Homo sapiens: one gene and its partner. The protein of the gene in region 2 interacts with the protein of the main gene of each other region in a biochemical or structural test. Each region holds a gene or a part of one and is shown on either strand. Other genes may lie near its edges.

Region 1 (3,500 bases), on a different chromosome or scaffold from region 2:
TTTTTTTAACCCTCAACAACTGTTTAAAACATCTCTTCAGTATAAAAAGCATACAACCTCCTCCAGCATCCTGATTTTTAGTAAGAAATCTTTTTTAAGATACTTGCATACTACTCCCCAAACAGTTTTCTCAAGTACCTATCTGGTCAAACTAGTTCTTGCCAATTTTCAAAGCATAAAAGTTAAATTTATCATTCTCAAGTTCCTTTTTTGGCTACTACCTTCATCTCTTGGTGTTAACAAACCTTGCACTGCTTTTCACTTTGACTTTTCAACTCCATCCCATAGCCCTTTTCTTCTTTCTTTAAAGATCAAACTAATTACTAGAGTCTTGTCTTCTCCAAAGGATACATTCTAAATTAAAAAAAAAAAAATAAATAATGTACTCACTTGTCATCTCTTTCAAGACAATGGACTAAAATGGGCAATATTCCAGATTTTATTAAGTCATCAATTGGTGGATTTCGATCACTGGACAAAAGCTTCCTGTAAGAGATAAAAACACTCCTGTGAAACTTAATAACATACAATATTATGATTAAATATAAATTCATATTTGACAAATATTAACATAAATCTGAATATTTGGTACAAGTGCCTTCTCTGAAATTAACAATTTATATAATGCAACCTTTTCTCTAAATTTATAAAAAGATATACAAATTAAATTTATAGAGATGACAAATAATTAGAAAAATAAGAATGTAGATATGAACCACTTTACTACCTTTTTTTTTTTGAGATGGAGTCTCACTCTGTTGCCCAGGCTAGAGTGCAGTGGCACAGTCTTGGCTCACTGCAAGCTCTGCCTTCTGGGTTCCAGTGATTCTCCTGCCTCAGTCTCCTGAGTAGCTGGGATTACAGGCGTGCGCCACCACACCCAGCTATTTTTGTATTTTTAGTAGAGACGGAGTTTCCTCATGTTTGCCAGGCTGGTCTTGAACTCCTGACTTCAGGTGATCCACCCGTCTTGGCCTCCCAAAGTGCTGGGATTACCGGCGTGAGCCACGGAGCCTGGCCACTTTACTACTTTTAATGGTACAACATTATTATTCCCTCAGTAAAGTCCTGATTGTGACTTATAAAAAGAAAACTAATTTTTAAAAAATACATGTTACTTTTGGACATAATTTTGAGTTCAGAGAAAAAAATGGGCAGATTTCTTCAACACAGCTTTTACCTTGCTAAGAAAGGAATTAAGAGGTCACCAAAATATCCAAAATTATTCACACTAGGTCACAAGAGAGTCAAATGACAAAAGCAGGTAGTCTGCTGAAATATGTTATAGCTGATATTAGTCCCTAATTCTTCCTTCTACTTTACACACCAAATTTAAGGCCATAAAAGTTCAACAACATTTTCATCTCAGCAACTAAAGAGAAATGGAATAAGCACAGCAACTGATAGGAAAACAGCCAGAGAGATGCTAGAGAATCTGAGGTAAAAAAGACAGACACATCACTGCTCTCATGGAGCTTATAAGATAAAAACAAAACCTAGTGTCTATTTTCACATGTGGGAGACTACAGGTTTAGCTGATAAGTCCTCAGTGTGGCCTAATCATATCTTTACCCACTGGAACACCCTGTATTACTATATAAAAGCAATGTTTATGAAAGCTTAACCAAATCATTTCCCTATATAAACTATGTGATGGCTGCTTATTTACTACCTTTATCAATGTAAACTCCTTGACCTAGCTTTAAACTACTTCACAAGTTGGCTCCATCTTATAACTAATCTTATTCTGTGTAACTAAACAATAGGTTAGTTGTCTGTCACAGCATTTCAACTGAAATAAGACTGAACCTATCCTAAACCCCTCACTTGAAATGCCCGGTCTTCTATGTATTCAAACTCTATTCAAAGTCCATTTCAAGTTCTATGTTTTACATAACACCATCTTTGAATTTCAAGAGGATTTATACAGCATAGCCCTACGTTTGGTGCTATCACTACTTATTTTTTTTGAGACAGGGTCTCAGTCTGTCACTCAGGCTGGAGTGCAGTGGTGCCACCTTGGCTCACTACAACCTCTGCTTCCCAGGTTCGAGCAATTCTCCCACCTCAGCCTCCCAAGTAGCTGGGATTACAGGCATGTGACACTACACCCAGCCAACTTTTATATTTTTAGTAGAGACGGGGGTTTCACCATGCTGGCCAGGCTGGTCTCAAACTCCTGACCTCAAGTGATCCCCTGGCCTCGGCGTCCCAAACTGCTGGGATTACAGGCGTTAAGCCACCGCGCCCAGCCCCCTATTTTTTAAAATACAGTTTTGCCTTTCCAATTAGCTTATAAAGTTCTTAAAGAGAAAGAATTATACCACATGCTATTTCCTCAACACATGGCACAGTGCTTAGCATTAAGTGGAAATTTAAAAAAAAAAAAAAAACCACTTCGAAGAAGTCTTAACCCAGCCTTCTCAAACAAGGTTTCATGAGATCAAGGGTCAAAATTTAATTTAAAAAATTTTTTTTACACTTCACTGAGGATATTTTAGAAGAGAAATGTCTTTTATTCTTTACATAATGGTGAATAATATAATTTTTACAAAATATAATATAAAACCAGTTTGGTGCCACTGTCTTGATTTGCATTAAGGAGCCCGCAATTTTACTCACAGTTGCTTTGCAATACCAGTGTAAACATTAACACAGTGAAAAAAAGGCAAATGAAGTCTTAGAATTATTTTGAAAATCAGTTTGCTCTTGCATACCCATGAAATTGTCTTGGAATCTCCCAGTGATCCACAGATCATACTTTGAAAACCTCTTAGGGTACACTGGGCTTTAATTTTCTTGCAGATTGCATGTTGAGAAGAACTGTCCCAAAACTATCCAATATTCAACTCTGACAATGGTGAGCATAATCGATTTCTTAATCATTCTTCCTATAAACATTAATTTGCTATTTTGCAATGTGAATGGTTCTGAGATTTTTCTGCCTACATAAAGAATTCCTCTCTAAGAAGTTCTTTTACCTCTGGTACACAATACTGTAATTTTATAACTTCCCTATCAGTTCTAAGTTATTTAAGGTGAATAAACAAATACTGGAAAAGTCTAATAAATATAAAACAGATTCGTGCAGCACTGGATAAGGTATTGGATAGACCTACAAACTTTTTCCACTTTCAAATTCTGTAACTAGGATCAGTTTCTTACTTGTCTCTTTCCTACTGATAAACTCAACATAGGGTGTTATTCTTATATTCATAAATATACAAAGCAACCACTAAATTGCATTATGATACAACCATGTCTTCCCCAACCTATTTATTAATACAAAGGTCTCAGTAATAGATTTTTCTGCCTCTTCCCTTAAAATATGAGAGCATAGGTTTTACAATAGAAATGTGCAAAACAGGCAGGGTATGGTGGTTCACGCCTGTAATCCCAGCACTTTGGGAGGCTGAGGCAGGTGGATCACAAGGTCAGGAGTTCAAGACCAGCCTGGCCAAGATGGTGAAACCCTGTCTCTACTAAAAATACAAAAATTA
Region 2 (3,500 bases):
TGCTGATGAGGCCATGCCATGAAACAGCACAGTCTCAAAGTAGTCCCATCCTTTCACAGCATGCTAGAATAGGAGAGTAGAACTTTGTCTTGAATCCATCCACAGTATTCATAATTGTGCTTGGCATATAATGAAAATTCAATAAACATTTGCTAGATGAATGGAATCCCAAAGCAAGCACAGTCTTTTTGAAATTTTCTAGAGGTTTTCAGCTAGTAATAACAAAATGGAAACAGAGGTAAAGAAGATGAAAAAAAATGGCTTTTTTCCCTTTCTGTTTTTCTGCTCTAGCTCCATAAGAAAAAGACAGAGAGGAACATTTGGGGTTATCTATTAGTGGGTTTATGGGTTGAGAAAACACAGGAATAAAAGTAAATACTTGTATCAGACTTTACTAATATTTCATCACAGTAGCTTGGAGTTGGGATAGTGAGGAAACAAGATGGTAGAAACCTAGTTTTTACTAAAATAGGTTGAGCCCATTGGTGTAATTTCCCTTGTCCCTCATCATTCATTCCTATAAGTAATGGCCTCTTGAACTTACTTTTGCAGAGCAGGGAATCTTAGGTGACAGTAAGAAAAAAAGCATGCCATTTCTTGTCTGTCAGCCATTGACGAAGCTCTTCCCACTTCACTGTTTATAAAGGACTTAGTGTAACTTGAGAATACATTCTTCTTTGTAGTTATGTTTTGGGTGGTTTTTCTTTTCATAATTGGTCAGTGCTTTCCATTAGGATTCTTTATTTTCTTTTCTACTGAGACCCTTACTGGGCTAGTAAAATGAAACTGTCTTAGTGGGTATATATGGTTTTCCACCAGAGGGTCATTCAGAAACAAACTCTTAGTACTATTGCTTACTTCCTATCAGTCCTTGTAAATAGAGGGCTGAATCAGATTTGTAAAAGAAGTTAGCAGTGGTAGTCTGGATGATTTCCTTTTTTCAGGGAAGTGGACAGAAGAAGAAGAAAAGAGACTTGCAGAAGTGGTTCATGAGTTGACAAGCACTGAGCCAGGTGACATAGTCACACAGGGTGTGTCTTGGGCAGCTGTGGCTGAACGAGTCGGTACCCGCTCAGAAAAGCAATGTCGTTCTAAATGGCTCAACTACCTGAATTGGAAACAGAGTGGGGGTACTGAATGGACCAAGGAAGATGAAATCAATCTCATCCTCAGGTTTGTGTCCTGAATCTTGTAATGACAAAAGCAACTTAATTTCTGTGGATGTCTTGATAGACTTTCCTCTTTTGGTTTTCCTGGATGCCTAGTGTCTGAAAAGTATCCTTTCCATAGAGCACTACTGTTTAAGATCTTAAGTATTTCATATTGAGCTCTTTTTTTGTGTTGTGTTTGTTCCTTTTTTTTTTTAGTGGGTTTAGTGCTCATGCAAAGTACCAGATTGAAGGCGTGGAGACTGAAGTCCTCTCTATATCCACAGAACAGGTATGGCACAGGCAGCGGCAGTGTAGCTTTTCCACTGTCCCACCAATGTGCCTCAGTCCTAGCCTAGGGGGAACACGTTTAGGATAAGAGGGCTGTTCAGTCTCCATGCCCTTCAATCCTTGGCTACTGTGCTAAGATTGCCAAGAAGGGGGCCCAGTCTGTAGTTACCTCCACACCTCCAAAGTAGACCAAATCAAACACATCCATTTCATACAAATTCAAAAAAGCTTTAAGATATCATAATCCCAGCTTATTTTTTTAAGTAGCTGGTTTAACCATTAAGATTTATTAACTAAAATGGGCAAAAATACTAGCAAGAAATTATTTAAGACCCTGAAGTAATAGAGACTGTCACCATGGCTACTCCCTACCGAAAATCAAATTGTCACAACAAAGCTAGAAAACGAACAGATTTTTTTAAACCTCAAATTTTGTTGTACTGTTGTGTTGTTTTTTGATTGCAGCTATTGCTTTTGTGTTATTTTGTTTTGGATTTTTTTTTCAACTAGTCATCTTTATAAATAGCTCATTTCTAAATATTTTTGCTTAACAATGGAAACGCTCAGATCCAGGAAGTAAATGACTTAGTAAATGCCACACTATGAAACATTGCATATATACAACTAAATCTGTTCTTATTCTAACCTTTAGCATACTCCTTTTCCTTCACAGTGCCTCATCTGGCTCTAACCATTTATAGTTTAGCCCATTGGTTGTACCTTTAATTAAAAGTGGTTGCTGTTGGTATTTCTTAGCTGTTAGCTCTGAAAGCAGATCTGCACTCCTGGAATCCTTTCCCGTGTAACTTAACAATAGCATCTCATTGGCATAACCTGCCATTCCCTTTATTTGCCAGTGCAATTACCTGTAGTCAGAGGAGGGGTTCTTATAGAGAAATTAATTTAATGTCTAACGATGCTTATTTTGTAACTGTAGGATAGCAGAACTTGATGTAGCTGATGAAAATGACATTAACTGGGATCTGTTAGCTGAGGGATGGAGTAGTGTCCGTTCACCACAATGGCTACGAAGTAAATGGTGGACCATCAAAAGGCAAATTGCAAACCATAAGGATGTTTCGTTCCCTGGTAATGTATTACTTACTTTTTAAGCTCCTCCCCTTTTCTTACCATATTTACTCCTTAGGAGTGAGAGGTTAGAAGTTCTTTGCCCCAGCTAGAGATATCATAGCAGATTTCTACTTACACCACTTCCCTGTTTCTCTCAGTAATTGTTTCCTTCCCCAGAGAAGAGTTAATACTGTTTGTAATTCCTAAAGCCCCTAAAATGAAAATGTACACACTTATTCTTGTTCTTCTACGTAAACTATCAGGAGGAAATAAAATCATGCCACATAACGATTTAATTTTTATGTTTTTAGAGACAGGGTCTAGCTTGGTTGTCCAGGCCGACATGCAGTGGTGTGATCATAGCTCACTGTAACCTTAAACCTGTCGGCTCAAGTGATTCTCCCACCTCAGCCTCCTGAATAGCTCGGACTACAGGCACACACCACCATGTCCAGCTATTTTTTTTCGTAGAGATGAGGTCTTGCCATGTTACCCAGGTTGGTCTCCAACTCCTGGGCTCAAGTGATCTTCCCAGCTTGGCTTCCCAATGTGCTGGGATTACCTGCATGAGCCAGCATAGCTGGCCACTCATAACCTTTCAGTCAACAACAGATGTCATACATAGTATTGGTCTCACAATATTAAAATACTGTATTTTTACTTTTTTTCTATGTTTAGATACACAAATATTTACCATTGTGTTACAGTTGCCTACAGTATTTGGTACAGTAACATGCTGTAAGGGTTTGTAGCCTAGGAGCAATAGACTGTATAGATCATCTAGCCTACGTGTGTAGTAGGCTGTACCATCTAGGTTTGTGTAAGTACACTGTGATGATCCCATGACAGAATCACCTAATGGCTCATTTCTCAGAACATATCCCCATCCTTAAGTGATTGATGACTATATTTTTATTTTGTACAAAGATGTACTTCTGAAAACCTAAGTTTAAGTCAACTTTTGTGAGTTGTATAATTTCAAATATCTTA

Evidence for each region. Proteins that work in one complex are often made in the same cells at the same time.
Region 1: the proteins of DMTF1 (region 2) and KPNA4 interact in a test that uses a peptide from one of them, tested with the Homo sapiens proteins (one study listed by BioGRID).

The regions. Positions count from the first base shown.
Region 1 is NC_000003.12:160,531,072-160,534,571, forward strand, and holds part of KPNA4 (importin subunit alpha-3), read right to left. Parts: intron 487-3,500; coding exon 391-486; intron 1-390. UniProt on the Homo sapiens protein: Functions in nuclear protein import as an adapter protein for nuclear receptor KPNB1. Binds specifically and directly to substrates containing either a simple or bipartite NLS motif.
Region 2 is NC_000007.14:87,183,453-87,186,952, forward strand, and holds part of DMTF1 (cyclin-D-binding Myb-like transcription factor 1), read left to right. Parts: intron 1-944; coding exon 945-1,173; intron 1,174-2,376; coding exon 2,377-2,528; intron 2,529-3,500. UniProt on the Homo sapiens protein: Transcriptional activator which activates the CDKN2A/ARF locus in response to Ras-Raf signaling, thereby promoting p53/TP53-dependent growth arrest. Binds to the consensus sequence 5'-CCCG[GT]ATGT-3'.